Linked DNA regions of Homo sapiens: all the other regions are linked to region 1. The links come from fine-mapping of genetic effects on gene expression. A gene starts in region 1. Each other region holds a variant in brackets. All regions are shown on one strand. Distances are from middle to middle. Region 1 holds the start of INTS8 (integrator complex subunit 8). Region 2 overlaps INTS8 (integrator complex subunit 8). Region 3 overlaps INTS8 (integrator complex subunit 8). Region 4 has its middle 26 kb from the start of TP53INP1.

Region 1 (5,264 bases):
GCATTTTACATTTGACATGTATGGAGGTTCTAATTTCATATCATCACCAATACTTATTTTTGTCTTTTTGATCATAGCCATTTTAGTGGGTGTGAAGTGGTATTTCACACAGTTTTGTTTTGCTTTATTTATTTATGTATTTATTTGAGACAAAGTCTCGCTCTGTCACCCAGCCCAGAGTGCAGTGGCATAATCATAGCTCACTGCAGCCTGCTTCCCAGGCTCAAGCCATCCTCCCACCTCAGTCTCCCAGGGTAGCTGGGACCACAGGCATGTATCGCCATGCCTGGCTAATTTTTGTGTTTTTTGTAGAGATGGGGTCTCACGTTGTTGCCCAGGCTAGTGATTTGCGTTTCTTTTCTTTTCTTTCCTTTTTTTTTTTTTTTTTGAGACAGTCTCACTCTGTCACCCAGGCTGGAGTGCAGTGGCATGATCTCAGCTCATTGCAACCTCCACCTCCTGGGTTCAAGTGATTCTCTGTCTCAGCCTCCCGAGTAGCTGGGATTACAGACGCATCACCACCATGCCCGGCTAATTTTTGTATTTTTAGTAAAGACAGGGTTTCACCATCTTGGCCAGGCTGGTCTTGAACTCCTGACCTTGTGATCCACCCACCTCGGCCTCCTAAAGTGATGAAATCACAGGCGTGAGCCACCGCACCTGGCCGATGATTTGTGTTTCTTTAACGACTAATGATATTGAGCATTTTCATGTGCATATTGCCCATTTGTAATATCTTCTTTGGAGAATGATCAATTCAAATCCTTTTTTTTTTTTTTTTTTTTTTGTTTTGAGATGGAGTCTCGCTCTGTCGGAGTCTCGCTCTGTTGCCTAGGCTGGAGTGCAGTGGCACAATCTCAGCTTACTGCAACCTCTGCCTCGTGGGTTCAAGCAATTCTCCTGCCTCAGCCTCTCAAGTAGCTGGGATTACAGGTGCCCGCCACCATGCCAGGCTAATTTTTGTATTTTTAGTAGAGATGAGGTTTCACCATGTTGGCCAGGCTGGTCTTGAACTCCTGACCTCAGGTGATCCACCCACCTCGGCCTCCCAAAGTGCTGGGATTACAGGCGTGAGCCACCGTGCCTGGCCAATTCAAATCCTTTACTCACTGTGTTGTTGCTGGGTTGTAAGAGTTCTTTACATATTCTAGATGTAAGTCCCTTATCAGACACATGATTTGCAAATATTTTCTTCTAGTCTTTGGGTTGTCATTCCACTTTCCTGATGGTATCTTTCCAAGTGTATTATTTTTTAAATCAAAATTTTAAATATTTCTTTTGCCTCTGTTGTTTCTGAGAGCCGAAGACATAGCAAGTTGAAGAAGCCTTGGCTTTTTGACATTCTGGGACACCTTTCAAGAACACTGAACCCACACCAGGATTGTCACACACTGACAGGGAAAGATGTGTCACTCCAGACCCAGGCAAGCAAACTTGGCCACAGCTGGGATATGTGTCTTGCATCAAAGCAGAAGCAACTGGTAGTTTTGAGGGTCTTCTGACAGACACCCTCCAAACATACTGCTCAGAAGTGAGGTAGGAGGTGAGATGCGACTCTGGAGTCAGGGTTTGGACACCGGACCAAATTCAGGGATGGGGCTGAAGCAGCTTTCCATGAGACATGCTCAACAGTGTGCCATGTCGGTTTACCATTGCCATGGCAACACCTGGGCATTGCCACCCCATTCTATGGTAATGACCCGATGACCCAGAAGTTACTACCTTTTTCCTAGAAATTTCTGCATAAACTTCCCCTTAATCTGCATGCAATTAAAAGTGGGTGTAAATATGCCTGCAGAACCTCCCTGAGCTGGTATTCTCAGCGCACTGCCTGTGGGTTAGCCCTGCTCTGCAGGGGCAGTCACAGAGCTGTAACACTGCCACTTCAGTAAAGCTGTTCTCTTCTACCACTGGTTCACACTTGAATTCTTTCCTGGACAAAGCAAAGAACTCTCTGGGGTGAAGTTCCAATTTGGGGTCACCTGCCCTGCATTAGAGGGACAAGAGTCCCTGGCTGGAAGCTTGAGTTCATTAGACTCCTCCAATGTTGATGAAGTCTTAAGTTATGACTCCCTCTAAGAGATGGTCTCTAAGTTTAATAAACTTCAAGATCTCTGTCAACCTTCAAGTATTCAATTACCCACTCTGAAAAGGGGAGTTCAGTGCTGTAACACTTTTATGGCAAGACATTTTTGAGTCTAAATAAAACACCTTGGGACTTGAAATATATAATGTTGTTATTGTATTAGATGGTAGTGGAATAATGAACTCTTCCTTAATTAAAACTTATTTTTACATATGTAATACAAATGTCAAAATGTCAAGTTAATCTGTACTGATTTCCTTTTTTTTCTTTCTTTTTTTTTTTCTCGTTGTGAGACAGGGTCTCACTCTGTTGCCCAGGCTGGAGTGTAGCGGCACAATCACAGCTCACTGCAACCTCAATCTCTTAGGCTTAGGTGATCCTCCCGCCTCAGCTTCCTGAGTAGCTGGGACCACAGGTGTGTGTCACCATACCCGGCTACTTAAAAAAAATTTTTTTTTGAGACAGAGTTTCGCTCTGTTGCCCAGGCTGGAGTGCAATGGAGCGATCTCGGTTCACTGCAACCTCCGCCTCGCGGGTTCAAGCGATTCTCCTGCCACAGCCTCCTGAGCAGCTGGGATTACAGGCGTCCGCCACCAAGCCCGGCTAATTTTTGTATTTTTAGTAGAGACGGGGTTTCATCATATTGGTCAGGCTGGCCTTGTATTCACGATCTATGAATGCATCTTTTTTCAGTTTTAATCGTTAATGAAAAATACAAGAACATCACAGAACGGAGGTAAATGTATAGGGTTAACAGCGCCTCTAGCGGGGATATCGAAAGGATCAACTAGGCTCTAAGTATCGGGAGCTAGCAGCAAGGGCTGCTCACCGTATGCTGCCATCCGTCCAGGAAGCGAGTGGGAAGCTGGTGTTCTCGGCAGGACGGCGGGAGCATCTGAGGAGAGGACCCAGGTGCGAGGAAATCTCAGAAATGGGAACGGGGAAATTGAAAGCACAGGAGATAAACTTTGCTTGGGTCACAACTAGAACCCTTCGCTTCGCCTTTACGAAAATATTGAGGCCCGTTGCAACCCTAGATGAGGTTGTCTCATTTTCTCGCTGGAGAACTGTCAGGGAACACGGAAAACCCACCCGCGACCCGGCTTCATGCGGCGCCGTCTCCTATGGCAACCGGGAGGAGGCGTGGTTCGAAGGTTAGTCACGCCCCTTTCCTTCCAACCCGAACAACGATTGGTCCGAAGGCGCGGCGGTGGCGCGGGGAGGCGGATCCAGGACCGCAGCTCCGGCTGGCCCGCGCCGCCATTTTGGATTGTGTGAGTTTCCGGGACGTTCGGAGGGTGGCCTCTCTCCCACCGGGTTCCGCATACCCCAGGCACCGGCCCGCATCCAAGTGTCAGGTTGGAGCCGGGAAGCGGCCCTGGTGGTAGCGGCGGCGGGGGCAGGATGAGCGCGGAGGCGGCGGACCGGGAGGCGGCCACCTCCAGCCGGCCCTGCACCCCGCCGCAGACCTGCTGGTTTGAGTTTCTGCTGGAGGAGTCACTGTTGGAGAAACATCTGCGCAAGCCCTGCCCGGGTGAGCGCGGCGCCTGCACCTGGGGAGCGGGACCCGGCCACCGGCGCTGTCCGCCCAGCTTCCCTCCGCTCCCCGCCTTCTCGGTCACCGAAGCTGCGGCCTGGGAGGCGCGCACAGGAGCCCAGCTCCGGCCGGGCTCCTCGCTTCCCTTAAACATGCCCGGGTGGAGGGTCAAAGAAAAGCTCGAAACAAAGGCTCTCCTACCCCCGGAGGGGAGGGCTTGGTGCTGTCATCCTAAACCCTTTGGTCCTTTTTACGATTTACCTTTTTACTGTTGGGGTTTTAGAGGCTGCGAGGCGGGTCTTGTGGTTGCTTGGGTCGGGGAGGCTGACCAGACGCCTCCTTCAACCCCAAGCTGAATAAATTCAGGGAGCTGGGGAGAAACCAGCTGTTGGGTGTTGATCGTGACGCTAGTTATTATCTTAGGTTTTATTTAAACATTTTTTTCTTCAGTGAGGGAATTTTATTGACTCTTATTCCAAAGTTGGGCTGTAAGTTAAAAGAAAATCTTTGAAAGTAGGAACTGCTGCACATTTGCAAGATGGCTTTGTATAGTGATGATAATGATTAATAGCCCAGTTAAATGGGTGTGATTGATGGGGGAGGAGGAAAACTCCAGGCATTCTCAAAAAAGGTATTGGCACAAAAAGGTAAGTTCCTCGGATAGCATTTCTCTAAATTCAAATCTAGATATGGCTTGTTCAGTCTCAGACTGGCCTTCACTGATAGAGACCACTGTGTAAGAAGTTAGTGTACTTAGGCAGTTTTGGCACCTGTATAATGCCCTTAATTCATTCCTTTTGAAAGATAATTTGTTGAGTGCTTTCCGGGTGCCATGCACTGTGCTTAATTGCTCACATCCGTTACCTCCTTTAATTTAATCTTCAAAATGATCCTCTATTTTGCATTGGAAGAAGCAGGTACGGAGAGGTCACTTGATGGAGGTCCCCCTAATTAAGTGTCAAAATAATAGTTCTAATATTTATATCTCATTCTTCTAATTGGCAGTGGTTATTTGCAGAACCAGAAATCTATGACTGTTATGTTCTTCCCCGTAAGGTGCTTTTTTTTGCTTTCTTCCACTCTAATCTGTTACCCTTCCTCCTTACCACTCTTCCGCATCTCCTTTAACCCCCAGGCACACTTCTTACATACGTATTCCTTAGTCATTTTAACAGCGCAGCTGTTTGGATTCCTTTTGTGGCAAAAAAAAAACCCAAACTCCCCCCCCCCCCACCCACCCCCCCAAAAAAACCAAACCAATAGTGAATCCTTTTGTATCTACATAATTAAAACTTAAATTTAAGAATTTATTTTCTTTTAAACCCTAGATCCTGCACCAGTTCAACTTATAGTTCAGTTTTTGGAACAGGCTTCCAAACCTTCAGTTAATGAACAAAACCAAGTTCAACCTCCGCCTGATAACAAGAGAAATCGTATTTTAAAACTACTTGCTCTTAAAGTTGCTGCACATTTGAAGTGGGACTTAGACATATTAGAGAAAAGGTATCCAAGATTTCAGTGAAATTTCATTTGAAGTGCTATTTAGATATCTTGGTTTATTTCTATATATGCTTTTATGATATCGGCTCTTAAAAATTACGTGCTGGGCGCCGTGGCTCACGCCTATAATAATCCCGGCAC
Region 2 (5,000 bases), 53 kb after region 1:
GTTCTGACTTCTTTAACAAGGCTGTGCCCCCTGATGTTTATACAGACCAGGTGAATTGTTTTCGTGGGCTGGCTGGTTTCTTGCCTACCTGTATATGTTCTTCCTGGGTCCCCTTTTGGCTGAACTTACCCATTTCCTTGTAATGTGATCGTAAGTCCCAGGTTCATGGCTCTAGAACACATTGCTCTGTGTATTTTCATTGTCCTTATTTCTAGCACCTATTGCTGTCTTGATTCCCCCAAAACACCTCAAATTCAACTTGTCCAAACTGATTTGTGTCTGTCTTTACCATAAAGTAATAAACTCCTAATACACTCCTAATAAATTCACCTGTCCTTTCAAAAACAAAAACAAAAAACCTGCAAAATACCAAACATTTTTGTTTAACCATTTGAGTAGTTCAAGCCCAAACCCTGACTATCATTTTTGGCTTTTTTCTTTACTGACCCTCCTGCCACCATCCAGTTAGCTCTCACATCTTGTGGATTCTATCTCCTAAATCCCTATTTTTTTTTCCTAATTTCTTTGGTATATATTTAAGATATACAGAATAATGTTTTAATATACACAGTGAGATGATTACTACAGTCAAACAAAAAAACATATCCATTGCCTTCCTTAGTTACCCATTTTTTGTGATAAGAGCACCTAAAATCTACTCTCAGCAATTTTTTAGTATACATTATGGTATAATGAATTCTAGTCCTCATACTGTATATCAGTTTGCTAGACTTTTTCTATCTAATTGCAAATTTGTGCCATTTGACCTACTTCTTCCCATTTCCTCCCCATTCCTGCACCTGGTGTCAAATTTTGTCCGTTTTTTTTTTTGATATGCATTGCCATTTCCTCTGATGTAGGCTACCAGTACCATAACTTAAATGATATTTTAAAAATACTTATAATGGCTTTCAAAATAAGATTGAACATTTATTAGATTTTTGGTTTATTTTTTACAGCACTTTTAAGTTCACAGCAAAATTGAATAAAAGGTACAGAGTTCCCATATATCCCCCGTTCCTCCACACACAGCTTCCTCTTTTGACATCCCATACCAGAGTGACACATTTGTTAGAATCCATGTTAGCTGGTTTTTGAAAATAATGAGAATTTTGCTTTTGTAGGTAATAAAACGAATGATAAAATGTTGTTCTTTGCTGAATTGCCACACACAGGTTAGTTTATAATATTATGAAGTTGTTTTATTTTTACATATGTTAGAGTTTATAATAAATATAAAGCATTGAACTGGAAATTAGCTTTTATTTTCCATATCAAAATCACTTAGGGTATGTAAGAGTTTGGCATATTCTTTAAATTTTTTTAAATAGTTTATAGAATGTCAACTAAAATGAAAGTATGAATTAAAAACATTGACCTTTAAACCTCCTAAGTGGGAAAAAAGCATTTTTCAGGTTTTTAAAGATACTTTAGAAATGTGCATTAGTCATTAGGGAAATGCAAATCAAAACCATGAGATACCACTTCCTACCCACTGGGATGGCTGTAATCTAAACACATTTAAAAACAAATGTTGGTGAGGATGTGGGGAAATTGGCACCCTCATATGTTGCTGGTGGGAATATAAAATGGTGTAGCATCAAAATGGTGTAGACTCAGGAAAACAGTTTCCCAGTTCCTCAAAAAGGTAAACATAAGAATTACTATATGACCCAGCAGTTTCACTCCTAGGTGTATACCCAAGACAACTGAAAACATATGTCCACAGAAAAAATTGTGCACAAGTGTTCACAGCAGCATCATTCATAATAGCCAAAAAGTAGAAACAACCCTAATGCCCATCAAATGATGAATGACTGAACATAATGCAGCATATCTATGCAATGAAATATTATTCAGCCATAGAAAGGAATGAGTTACTGTTACGTGGTACAGCATGGCTGAACCTTGAAAGATTATGCTAAGTGAAAGAAGCTAGACACAAAAGGCTACATAGTCTATGATTCCATTCATATGAAATGTTCAGAGTAGGCAAATGTATGGAGACAAAGTAAATTAGTGGTTATCAGAGGCTTGAGGTGAGAGGGAATGGAGAGTGACTGCTAATGGACTTTTTTGGGGGAAGTAATGAAAATGTTTTTAAATTACATAGTGGTGATGGTTGTACAACTTGGTGAATATACTAAAAACCACCAGATTGGGTACTTTAAGAGGGTAACTTTTATGGTTTCTGAATTAAATTAATAAAAACTATTTTTTAAAGAGATGGACATTATGACCTGAGTGAAATGTTTTCTATGTTAAGCAGATTGGCAGCCTAAATTTTCCAAAATGAGCGTCTATACTTGCCAGCTATGAAAGGTTTAATTGCACACTCTGTATGTCCTTGAATGTCATGACACTTTTGCTTGGCAGTTTTCCATCCCCTTCAGTTTTCTGAACTGGCTTTTTGCCAGCTTCTCATTCAAACAAACCTCTAAAATTTGTGGTTGAGGTCACTGATGAAGAGAATATTGGTCAGACAGACACGTGTATAAAGGTTTTTGAAATTAAAATTGGATGGAATCCATAACTATGAGCGGATTCAATGTGATCTATAAGGCTTAATATAAGAGTAATTCAAGATTACCTTGTAAAACCAAGCTTTCATTACATGAAACCATTTTCAAATCTTTGTTAATGTAGGTGGC[C/T]ATTTTATGTCAGTTCCTCAGAGAAATTGACTACAAAACAGCGTTTAAATCTCTGCAAGAACAAAACAGGTATGAATAATATTTTAAAAATAATGAGGTCAACATTTTTCTGCTTAAGAAGTAACTGAATTCTGTCTTTCAGTCATGATGCTATGGACTCCTACTACGACTACATATGGGATGTTACCATTTTGGAATACTTGACTTGTATCCTTTCATCCATGTGTGTGATGTTAGAATGATCCATTTTTATAAATTAAAGGAATATTTAATATTGTATATTTTCCAAATCAAAACTGAAAATGAGTTGAGATTCTCTCATTATATTTAATACTATCAGATTTATTTTCCTTAACTGATTCATTAGATCTTCATCATAAAAGAGGAGAAACAGATAAAAGACAAATTGCAGTAAGTTACCTTATGCCTTTCTTCAGTGGTACAGTTTCCAGAATATTAAACAATTGTTAAGATGTGAACCAACAAAAAATAGATTTTGTGTACCTAGTTACTGCCAGAATTTTATTATCAGTGTTTACTTTATAAAAGATCCTTTTTTGATAATTTTAACTGTTCCATGTCATTATATATTATTTTAAAATGTTAGATCATGTCATTTCTCAGTCCCAAACTTTCCAATGGCTTCTCATCTCATACAAAGTTAAAAGTCTTACGATGGCTTTATAAGGCTATATACAACTTGACCTCTAGCCTGTCCGTCTGACTTTTCCTCCTTGCTAATTTCTGCTACACCAGTACCCCTCCTGTTCTTTCAACAAGCCAAGAACATTCACCACCTAAGAAGGGGCTTTGAAATTTTCTCTTCCAAGAACATCCAACTTCCCTCAGATCTCTCGTCAATCATCCTTTCCTGATCATCTTATAAAGTAACAATTTCTGCTTCCCTTTTCCCTCCAGTACTCTTACTCTCATTTCTTTTTACATTTTTCTCCGGAACACTTATCAACATCTAACATACTGTATATTTTCCTAATATCTATTTCCCCAGGAGGGTAAGGACTTGTTTTGTCATAGTTGGTCCCTAGAATGGTGCCTGGCACATATTAGGTGCCCCAGAATCACTGATTAGATGAACTCTTTATCTAAATTTGATGTATGGGCCAAAACATTTTAAATTGTATGGCCATATTTACTTGTCTAACATTTACTGTGGCAGTATCACCACAGATCTTTTCTTTGCTCTTTCACTTATATTAATTTAAAAAAATGCTATTTATTAAGGGTCTTTTAAACTTTGTACTCGGACTAAAATATATGCCCATTGTTTAGAAGAAACAATAATAACAGCACTTAAAAACAAAAAGGAAAAAGAATGTGAAGGCCAGTTCCACTTGATTGGAGGCAATTCATTCTCCCTTTTCTAATTTACCTGGGGCTGGAAGGCAATATTGAAAAATTTTCCTAGCTCCTTTTTGCTATTTCCAAACCACTTCTACTTGTATCATTTTTTGAGACCCTTATGCTTCATACCTTACTTCCTTACTAGCTCCTGTAAGTATCTGGTTGTTCCTCTACATGTGTCAAAAGACGTGAGGAATTTACCTGTCACCCTGAGCTTTACAAGTCCTTGCCAGCCTCACATCTATGAGGTGTTATTTTTACTCTGTACCAGCCACTCACACCCAAAGCCATGTCTTACTGTCAGGCACAATTGTTCTGTTAGATCTTATACTGCAACCCACTCTCTGCCCATAACCTATCCTTCTCTTACTTCCTTGCTCCTGAGCCCCTCACGATCAGTGGGATATTGAGTTTTGTGACATTTTTTTCCCAGTCATTCCCTTCCATCTTCCCTTCTCTGCTCATCTCAAATACAACAAATACTATTCTGCACACTGAGAGGTACCGATTCAGTTGGTCTGAAGTGGGACCCTGGAATCCAGTTTTTAAGTTTCCCGGGTAGTCTGGTGATGAACCAGGTGTGGGAACCCCTGCTATGATAGAACTACTCTTGATCAATATTTTTAGCGTCTTCCCTTTATCCTTTACCTCACCTGGGAAAGCCCTAGCCCTGCATAAGTCCAGAAACTTACGTGTTTTATTTTCTTGGGCCACTGAGACTATTGGAAAAAGTCCTACGACTGGTGCCACTGCCAAACAAGTCTCCAACCCGTCAGCTTTTTTGTTTTACCTGCCACTAGTTCAGTGGTCCACATTCTCTTCGTGGACTCTAATTTTTAGACTTTCCTGTTTAAGCCCCTGTCCTCTCTCTACCTTTTCCATACTCAGTAACTTCTTTACCTCTTCTATGCTTGAGATATACCAGTGAAGACTGGCCAGGCTCTGTCCTCATGGATGTTAAGAGTCTTGGGAATGGTGACCTTGTGA
Region 3 (5,000 bases), 43 kb after region 1:
GGTTGTTCATGTGGCCTACCAGGCTTCTTAAGGTGTGCATGCTTCTCCTCCTCCAGGTGCAGTTCCCCTGCCCCTTGGCGTTCCAGCCCTGTGCTGGCAGCACCAGCATGCCCACGCCATGTTTCCATTCTGCACCTGTGCACACGCTGTTTGTCACATTAGCCAGGATGTCCTTTCCAGCTTTGCGTGTTTGTGTGATTTCTCTGATGCTTTCCCATATTCTTTTCTCTGTAAATGAGTAAATCACTTCCTCTTCCTGCTTCCTTTGTACTGTTGTACTGATCCTGCTACTGTTGTACTGTTGACTTATTTCTTTTGTTGTGTTTATGCTGAATAGTAAGTTATATATCCACTTGTCTTCTCTATAAGACAATGAACTGCTTCAGGGCAGTTAATTTTTATGTTGTGCTTTCCATGATGCCCACCACACATAGTAGGTGCTCAAGAATGTTTGTGGAATTCAATTGATTTGAGGCCTTAGACTTTGAAAATTTTTTAAATTAAATTTATGTAATAAATTCAGTGACCTTAAAGCATATGATCCCTGACAACAGAAGATGAATTTGAGCTAAGAGCTACAGTAGCCCTGGCATTACACTGCAGTGAATAGCTGCATGTATTGTGATTCCATTTGTCAGAGAAGAGTATTTTAGGTAAGCTTGCAGGATGAAATATCCTGCTAGGCCATTGGTCCATGTCTATTCACCTAGTATAGGCAGGGTTTTTATGTTATTCTCACGAGCTTCGGAAAGCCACAGTACTCTTGTTAATTTTCTTAGGCATGATCACAGAGTTGTGGTTATGGAGAAGAATGTCCTCGTCCTTAGAAGATGTATGTGGAAGTATTTAGGGATGAAATATTGTGTCTAACTTAGTTTAATATGGTTTAACAAAAAAATTTATGTAGATATATAAAGCAAACATGGCAGAATAGTCACAATGTGTCAGGTATTTATTGAACTTTTTTTTTTATTTTTCTGTTTGAAATTTTTCATAACAAAAAAATGTAGAGAAAAACCACCAATTTTTGTCCTTGTCACAATCTTGCCACCTCCTTAAAAAAGCCGCCTTAAGCAGTAGGGACCCCTAGGTCCATTTTAAGTAGAAACCAGGGGTTCCTGATGGATTTGAAATTATCCTTGCTACTGCACCCTCTACAAGAGCGATGGAGTATAAAAGTTAATATGAACAAGGGTAAAGGGGCCCAGTTCTGAATTTGGCCAGATGCTGTGGCTCAAGCCTGTAATCTCAGCACTTTGGGAGGCCGAGGCGGATAGATCACTTGAGGCCAGGAGTTCGAGACCAGCCTGGCCAACATGGTGAAACCCCGTCTCTACTAAAAATACAGAAATTAGCCGGGCATGGTGACACATGCCTGTAATTCCAGCTACTCAGGAGGCTGAGGCACAAAAATCGTTTGAGCCTGGGAGGCGGAGGTTGCAGTGAGCCAAGATTATACCACTGCATTCCAGCCTGGGTGCAGAGCAAGACCCTGCCTCCAAAAAGAAAAGAAAATAAAAGAAATTCTGAATTTATTGTAAGTCAATCTTTCCCTGTCTTTTGCTTTTAGCTTTCCCACTCTTTATTTCTGGGTCCTCCCTACATCCTAGGTCATTGAGGCTGCCTTTATTCATACCAGTCACTTTGTGTAACCTGTCCTGCCTTAATTCTACCTCCTCAGAAGAGCAGTAGCTCCATTCCCAGTTGCTACCAATTTTCTTAGAGAAAAATTGCTTTAAATCTATATCCCTTAATTCTGCCAACTTCAGTTTCCTTATTCCTTTCCTTATTTTTTTCGTTGAAACAATTTTTTTTTTTAGTGATTAAAAGTTGTATGTGTGTGTATTTGCACGTGGGAGAGAGAGAGATCTGAGCACTATTTTAACCTCACCCCCTGGGCTTTTACCACAGTTAACATCTTGGTGTATGCCTTCCATTACACTTTTTTTTCCCTATGTAACGTGGGATCATACTATGTGTATTTAGCAACTCGTTTTTTTTTCCACTTAATAAATCACCTATCTCTTTGCGTTGTCTCATTTTCGTTTTCATTAGACTATAACTGTTCAGAAACAAAGTTCGTATGCTCGAACCAGAGGATCTTTCTCAGATTCAGATCTGTCAGTACGCAATGAGCCCTAAATTCCTCAAAGGTTGTACAGAATGCACAGCATAAAATAACTGTGCTTAGTATGTTTGGGCAGTCATTCCATCTTTCCTCCAGTGTGCCTTGATAATAGAACTAATGTGCACGACATTACAGATTATCTTTTGTGTATTTTGTTTTTCATGTTATAGCTTGGACAGCTTTTAGCAGCTACATGCAAAGAACTTCCAGGCCCTAAAGAAAG[T/C]AGACGGACTGCCAAAGACCTTTGGGAAGTTGTTGTTCAAATCTGTAGTGTGTCCAGTCAGCACAAACGAGGAAATGATGGCAGAGTTAGTTTAATAAAACAGAGGGAATCTACGTTAGGTATCATGTATCGGTATGTATTGGTACGTTTCTATTAGTTGTGTTTGAGTTCTTAATATTTATCCTATTTATACTATTAACCTATTAAAGGTTGATTTCAAGAACATCAGCTTTTATTCTGTATATCATAAAGTTGGACAATCTTACGAGTTCTGTAGTACTCACCTGTGATGAACCTGTCTGCCTTGGCCACCTTTGGAAAGATCTTTTGTTTATATGTCATTTTAAGAAACTATTAATCATTTAATCAACTGGAATTCAAAATCAGTAGTATTTAAGGTTGGATAGTATTGAAGACTTCACATGTGATTAAAACAGGGAAGAAATGTTATTAGGTTAGTATAACAGTAGAATATTACATTCCTTTTCACACTTGCAGAATTGGAGCATTAAGAATAAACCTTCACCTATAATTTACTTTCTTGATTTTATTTTTTATTTCTAATATTAAATGTGTATTCAAAAATTTTTGTTTTGTAGGAGTGAACTGCTTTCTTTTATCAAAAAATTACGAGTAAGTTTTATTAAAAATTGCTCTAATTACTATTGCTGGTTTTTGTAGAATATGACTAAAAATTATTGGGTACTTCAAATACTGACTAAATTATTATTTGTTTTTTAATTTTTTTTTAAGGGACAGGGTCTTGATCTGTCACCCAAGCTGGAGTGCTGAGGTGTGATTGTAACTCACTGCGTCTTCTAATTCTTGAGGTTAAGCAGTCCTCCTGCCTCAGCTTTCTGAGGAACTGGGACTACAGGCACATGTAACCATGCCCAGCTAATTTTTTGTAGAGATGAGGTCTCCCCTTGTTGCCCAGGCTAGTTTCTAACTCCTGGTCTCAAATTATCATCCCTTCTTGGCCCCTCACAGTGCTGGGATTACAGGTGTTAGCCACCTTGCCTGGCCTCTGGTTAAATTATTAAAGTGACCTGTTAATGTGCTTTTCTTCAGTGATCATTATTGGTGGGTGGGATATTCTGACTGGAAAAGTTTGTATTGCATTTACTTTACCATGTTTTAGTGAACGGAGCAGGTATTTCTTTAAATTGTAAAGAAGTCTTCATAATAGGGGCTAGATGTGTGAAGCCTGGCTTTAATTTTTGCTTAGTAGGATCAATGTCATATTTACTTATTGGACGTAACCTAGGTTTCACTCTTTGAACATTATTTTAAGGGATAAAAAGTTACTTGAGAGTCATGTGAGGAGTTGAGCGTGGAGATAGCACCATAAGCCAAACATTTATGCTAATTTTATGTAAATTATGTGCTATGGTCCACGCCCCGCCCCCACATGCGATTAAAAAGTTGATTTTTAGTGTGCTAAAGCACATGCTAAAACAGATGCTACATTTTCAAAAGGCAAGGGTCTTTTAGAATGCTTGATGTCTGTGAGGTTGACAGGAGCAATATTAAATAAATATACATACACTGTTTAAGGATTCTGTGTTTTCTTTCTCATAGGAACCACTCGTTTTGACTATTATTTTATCACTCTTTGTGAAACTTCACAATGTTCGGGTAAGTATTTCATAATTTCATTTAGAAAAATTTAAAAGAAATTTCTTTGTAAATCACACCTTTTTTTTTCTTTTTAAAGGAGGACATTGTGAATGATATTACAGCTGAACACATTTCTATTTGGCCATCTTCCATTCCCAAGTAAGTAGTGGTATAGCTTTTATTTTATTAATTGAGTTATGTATTTGGAAACCATTCTGACTAGTATAGATACCCTTAGATAATTTTATTAAAGGGCCAGAAATCTAAGATTCTACAGTCTTTGTGTTTCTCTATTATGATAATGATAATTATCTTCCTGTAAATTGTGGATAAGGCATAACCCTTTTTTTTTTTTTTTTTTTTGAGGCAGAGTCTCACTCTGTTGCCCAGGCTGGAATGCAGTGGTACAATCTCTGCTCACTGCAATCTCTGCCTCTTGGGCTCAAGCAATTCTCATGCCTCAGCCTCCCAAATAGCTGGGATTACAGGCACCCACCACCACGCCTGGCTAATTTTTGTATTTTTAGTAGACACATGGTTTTGCCATGTTGGCCAGGCTGGTCTCAAACTCCTGACCTCAAGTGATCTGCCCACCTCAGCCTCCCAAAGTGCTGGGATTACAGGCAGGAGCTACCACACCTGGCCCAGCATAACTCTTAAGTAGGAGTTAAGATTTATCAGCCTTGGAACAGAAGATATAAGTGGTCCTGATTTTCAGTAGAATTGGAAAATTGGGGCCAATGAAAGAATGACTTTCTATCAGGTTTCCAGCATCTTATTTCTTTTACAAGTATCTATTTGAAAGTGATTTCTTTTTTCATAATTTTTTGTATGTCTCATCTAATGCTGCAGTTATCAAAAGGCTCCCAATCTCTTTTAGTTGCTGTAGGAACTAAACTAAACTTCTTTAATTACTTTGAGAAATATTCCCTTTTGCATGCACTACCTGAGAATCACAGTAAGATGATGGGGACTTTTTTTAGGGGAGGAAAAAGGGTTCATTTACTTGAAGAAATCATGTACATTTTT
Region 4 (5,264 bases), 100 kb after region 1:
GAACCCCAGTATGCAGTAGAAGGGAACAAGGGGAGGGCTGGGGTTTGAGTCCCACTGCTTTCCATCATGGCTGCTGTAGCCCAGTGTTGTTGCAGAATGTCTGCCCAGGCATGGGTGCTTCAGGATGCCACTCCAGAGCCCTATTATACTGGACCCTCCACCCCCAGCTTGCTCCTGGAAAGCTGCACACTGCTCACAGGCTGTGTTGCCAGCCATTCTCTATGAGCATCCCGCAGCTGCCTCTCATTTAGGGTTCTGCATTCAGCTGCAGCTGAGCCTCCGAAGAAATGAAAGCCTTTAATTCCCATCCCTGCTCATAGTTTTTAGCTGCCTATTAGGACCAATCTCCACACTTAAAGCATTCACCTTCATCCTCTCCAGCTCTGGGATCACCTTGCTTAATCCTCTTCAATAAGGCTAGAACTAGCCTTAAGAAAATTTAAGAAAAAGCTCTTAAAGTCCTCTACTGGATGCCAATGAGACATACAAACAGCCTACTCACAAGTGAGAGAAACCCAACCCAAACTAGCTTAAGCAAAAAGGAATTTTATCTCACATAATAGTCCAAGGGTAGAGCTTGATCAAGATATTAAATTATGTCACTATGGCAAGTCATCTCCCCTTCTGTCCTTCTTGCACATTGGCTGTATCTCTGTCAACTTCCCCCACTTGTGGAGCAAGATAGTTGCCATAGTTCTCGAATCTTCAAGTGTTTCTTGACTGAAGTTAAGTGGGGATGAGTCTCAGCTTCTCTCGGCAGTCCCAGAAAGCCTCAGTGTATCTTACTAGCTTTGACTGGGGCATAGTCCTATCCTTGAGCTATCCTTGGCCAGGGGGAATGCATATCTGATTGGCCAGGCCTGATTCATATGCTTACTCCTGGAGCTGGGAATAGTGAATGCCATCTGAAACTAACCTCGATTCTGGAGGGAGAAATAGATCCCTAGAAGAAAATTGGGATACTGTTATCAGAAGGGAAATGGATGCAGAATGTTCACAAATACATCCCTTCTTTACTCAATGTTTTTCTTAATTACAAATAAATTCTTCTGGCCAATGCTCTATACAATGCCTTCTCTACTCTCTTCAAGATCCATAACACAGTGCTTATCAAACTTTAAAATGCAAAGAAACCATCTGGGGAATCCTACTAAAAATGCAGATTAACATCCTTCAGTAGTGTGATGATGGCTGAAATATGGGAAGAGCAGGTGTCACAGGAGCTCAAATAGGGCTTCTCACTCATTAGCCTCAATTGCCTCTGTGAAATAGGAGGCAGAAGGCCAGCAGTGGTTTAGGGCAATGGTCTCAAAGTGTATTCCCTGGAATAGTAGTGGCAGCATGACCTGGGAATTTATTAGAAACACACATTCTCAGGCTCTATCCTGGATTTACTGAGTTAGAAACTTCAGAAATGGGGTCCAGCAATCCGTGTTTTTTTGTTTTTTTCTTTTTTTTGAGACGGAGTCTCACTCTGTCACCCAGGTTGGAGTGCAGTAACATGATCTCGGCTCACTGCAACCTCCATCTCCGCCTCCCGGGTTCAAGGATTCTCCTGCCTCAGCCTCCCAAGTAGCTGGGACTACAAGCATGTGCCACCACGCCCGGCTAATTTTTTGTATTTTTTAAAGTAGAGACGAGGTTTCACCGTGTTAGCCAGGATGGTCTCGATCTCCTGACCTTGTGATCTGCCCACCTTGGCCTCCCAAAGTGCTGGAATTACAGGCATGAACCACCGAGTCCGGCCAAATCCGTGTTTCAATAAGCGCTGCAGGAAATTGTGCACACTGAAGTTGGAGAACCACTGGGTTAGGGCCTAGCTGCTCATGGCTCTTGAGCTAGCAGCATGCGTATCATGCTAGAAATGCAGAATCTCTGGCCCCATACACAACAGACCTACTGGATTAGAATCTGCAATTTTTTTTTTTTTTTTTGAGGCAGAGTCTCACTCCGTCACCCAGGCTGGAGTGCAGTGGTGTAATCTTGGCTCACTGCAACCTCCGCCTCCCGGGTTCAAGCAATTCTCCTGCCTCAGCCTCCTGAGTAGCTGGGATTACAGGTGCCCGGCACCACACCCAACTAATTTTTGTGTTTTTAATAGAGATGAGCTTTCACCACATTGGCCAGGCTGGTCTCGAACTCCTGACCTCAGGTGATCCACCCACCTCGGCCTCCCAAAGTGCTGGGACTACAGGCATGTGCCACTGCGCTGGCTGAATCTGCATTTTTAACAGGATCCCCCAGATGATTTGTTTGCATTTTAAAGTTTGATAAGCACTATGTTAGGGATCTTGAGAGTAGAGAAGGAATCGTATAGAGAATTGACCAGTTGCACACAAAAGAATTGCCAAACTGGCACTTGAGCTCGTACCC[C/A]CTCCATGTCTCATGGCCGTGATCCCCACAAGAGTCATTTTTTTTTCCAGTTGCTCTTAGGCAGCTCAAATGTAGAAGCAAGCCTTGCATTCAGATTGACTTGTAGTTGGAGGTTAGCAGAACAGGCATGTCGGAAAGAGAAACGATTGAAAGTTGACATGCGACCATGAGAATGGCCAAAATCGTGCAGATGGGAGTCTGTAGGCCGGATAGGAAGGAGGGTGGCCATGAAGAAAGGTGGTGACAACCTGAATGTTTCTGATAGCATGAAGCAGGTAAGGTGTGAGAAAAAGTTAGCAGAGTAGTGGTCCAAGATTGCTATATAGAGTCTGTGGAACTGTTAGGTCCAGAGAAAACTGTCCAACAGAACCTTTTGGATGATAGAAATGTTCTCTATCTGCACTGTCCAGTATGGTAGCTGCTAGCCACATGTGGCTGTGGAGCACTTGAAATACTACTAGTATGACTGAAGAACTGTTGGAAACATTACTAATAGTTCTAAAGGCCAAAGCTATCTATACAACTAGATGCTCAAAGAAATGTTGCTCTCTTCTCATCCCCACTAACCTATTCCACTTCCTGTCTTCTATTCCAACCCTTTTTATCCACCCTCTGTAAGTAACCACTCCTTCATTTCTGGCTTTTTCTTCCTGTATTTCTTTTGCATAATGAGCTGATAGTGGTGTGTTTTCTTATATTCCTTTCTTACATGAAGTGTAGCTTACAATAGATACTCTGAATTTTACTTTTTTTTTTTTTTTTGAGACAGAGTCTCGCTCTGTCGCCCAGTCTGGAGTGCAGTGAGGGGATCTTGGCTTACTTCAACCCCCACCTCCTGGGTTCAAGCAATTCTTCTGCCTCAGCCTCCCAAGTGGCTGGGACTACAGGTGCCCGCCACCACGCCCGACTAATTTTTTTTTTTTTCTGTATTTTTAGTATAGGCCGGGTTTCACCATGCTGGCCAGGCTGGTCTCAAACTCCTGACCTTGTGATCCACCCGCCTTGGCCTCCTAAAGTGCTGGGATTACAGGCGTGAGCCACTGCGTCCAGCCTGAATTTTGCTTTTTTTCACTTGAGTATGTTTAGAAATCAAATCAAGCAGTTCATAAAGCTCTTCCTCAGTTTTGTTTTGTTTTGTTTTTTGAGACGTAGTCTCGCTCTGTCGCCCAGGCTGGAGTGCAGTGGTACGATCTTGGCTCACTACAACCTCCGCCTCCCGGGTTCAAGCGATTCTCCTGCCTCAGCCTCCTGAGTAGCTGGGATTAACAGGGGCACGCCACCACGCCCGTCTAATTTTTGTATTTTTAGTAGAGACGGGGTTTCACTGTGTTAGCCAGGATGGTCTCTATCTCCTGACCTTGTGATCTGCCTGCCTCGGCCTCCCAAAATGCTGGGATTACAGGCATGAGCCACCGCACCCGGCCCCTTCCTCAGTTTTTAAAAAAGCTGCATTGACCTCTATTGTGGGGATGTGTTATAATATATTCAACTAATCTATGCATAGCATTTAGGTTTTTCAATTTTGCATTTACAGCAGACAGTGTTTCAATGAATAACCTTGTGGTCTGTACAAATTTACAGCAAAGGAGCAAGATAATCTTAGGCCACATATCAAACTGTGAAGCCTTGATGTGCCCATCCCCACAAGCCACCTTCATGTTTGACTGCCCACTTCTAGACTCCATACAGTCACTGCCTTGAGACCTGATCAAGCTGCTAGATTCCCTGGACACTCTGTAAGTGGGCCTAGCAACAGTCTTCTCAGCAGCAGCCATTCCCCTGCCATTCCAGAGTAGGGTTTTTGTTCTGTTTTGTTTTGTTTTTTGAGACAGAGTCTCACTCTGTTGCCCAGGCTGGAGTGCAGTGGCATGATCTTGGCTCACTGCAACCTCCACATCCTGGGTTCAAGCAATTCTCCTGCCTCAGCCTCCCGAGGAGCTGGGATTACAGGCGTGTGCCACCATGCCTGGCTCATTTTTGTATTTTTAGTAGAGATGGGGTTTTGCCATGTTGGCCAGGTTGGTCTTGAACTCCTGACCTCAGGTGACCCACTTGCCTCAACTTCCCAAAGTGCTGGCATTACAGGCACGAGCCATCATGCCCAGCCCAAAGTGGGGCTTTCATTTCAACCTGCTGCTTCTCAAGTCAACGTTCATGACCTTATTTTCATCTTTGGGTGACTCCTTCTTACCCCTGGCACCCAATCTTTTCATCTCAGCAAAGACTCAGATAATAAAAATCTGACTTTAAATAAGCTACAGTTGTAGAATGCTGATCTGCCCCAAACATTCATTCACATGGGAGTTATTCTTTGGGCTTCGTGTTCCATTATTCTGAATGTTTACTGGCCTATTGAAACTAGAGCTCCACAATAGGGGTATCAATGGCATCAGGGAAGGCCATATTGTCCTAAAACACTTCTATAAGATTCCATCTCCATTCATTTGGGAGAAGATCCATTGGGAATTCATCCACCTGGCTTCAAAAAGGCTAAAGCCAGTGTATTACATTCTATATTTTTAAACATTGATTGGAGGGAAAGGTACTGGTTGGGGATCACCATCCAATTCCTGTTCACTTAAGTGATTCCTCATTTTAGGTTAAAAAGAAATCCTTTTTTTTTTTTTTTTTTTGAGACAGAGTCTTGCTCTGTTGCCCAGGCTGCGCAGTCTCAGCTCACTGCAACCTCCGCCTCCCAGGTTCAAGGGATTCTCCTGCCTCAGCCTCCCAAGTAGCTGAAACTACAAGTGCACACCACCACGCTCAGCTTATTTTCATATTTTTAGTAGAGACAGGGTTTTGCCATGTTGGCCAGGCTGATCTCGAACTTCTGGCCTCAAGCGATGTGCCTGCCTTGGCCTTCCAAATTGCTGGGATTACAGGCATGAGCC

What was found. PIP is the estimated chance that this variant, and not a neighbour inherited with it, causes the effect. A credible set is the group of variants that fine-mapping cannot tell apart.
Region 2: its variant is the best candidate, but not a certain one, in a credible set for the expression of INTS8 in esophagus muscle (GTEx, PIP 0.73).
Region 3: its variant is the best candidate, but not a certain one, in a credible set for the expression of INTS8 in whole blood (TOPMed, PIP 0.83).
Region 4: its variant is the best candidate, but not a certain one, in a credible set for the expression of INTS8 in tibial artery (GTEx, PIP 0.56).

Annotation. Positions count from the first base shown.
Region 1 is chr8:94,819,942-94,825,205 of GRCh38, forward strand. INTS8 (integrator complex subunit 8) reads left to right here and starts at 3,346. Exons shown (of 27, transcript NM_017864.4): 1 at 3,346-3,620; 2 at 4,952-5,126. The coding sequence starts at 3,491. RefSeq lists a silencer at 3,383-3,772 and an enhancer at 3,933-3,992.
Region 2 is chr8:94,873,428-94,878,427 of GRCh38, forward strand. It overlaps INTS8 (integrator complex subunit 8), which reads left to right. Exons shown (of 27, transcript NM_017864.4): 22 at 1-50; 23 at 1,125-1,175; 24 at 2,647-2,720; 25 at 2,794-2,858; 26 at 3,019-3,062. Among named protein-coding and RNA genes, the nearest start is that of CCNE2, 19 kb to the right of the region's middle. The variant C/T (reference allele first, on the strand shown) is at 2,652.
Region 3 is chr8:94,863,208-94,868,207 of GRCh38, forward strand. It overlaps INTS8 (integrator complex subunit 8), which reads left to right. Exons shown (of 27, transcript NM_017864.4): 17 at 2,299-2,483; 18 at 2,951-2,984; 19 at 3,933-3,989; 20 at 4,069-4,130. Among named protein-coding and RNA genes, the nearest start is that of CCNE2, 29 kb to the right of the region's middle. The variant T/C (reference allele first, on the strand shown) is at 2,352.
Region 4 is chr8:94,920,563-94,925,826 of GRCh38, forward strand. It overlaps a transcript of NDUFAF6 not described here. Among named protein-coding and RNA genes, the nearest start is that of TP53INP1, 26 kb to the right of the region's middle. The variant C/A (reference allele first, on the strand shown) is at 2,374.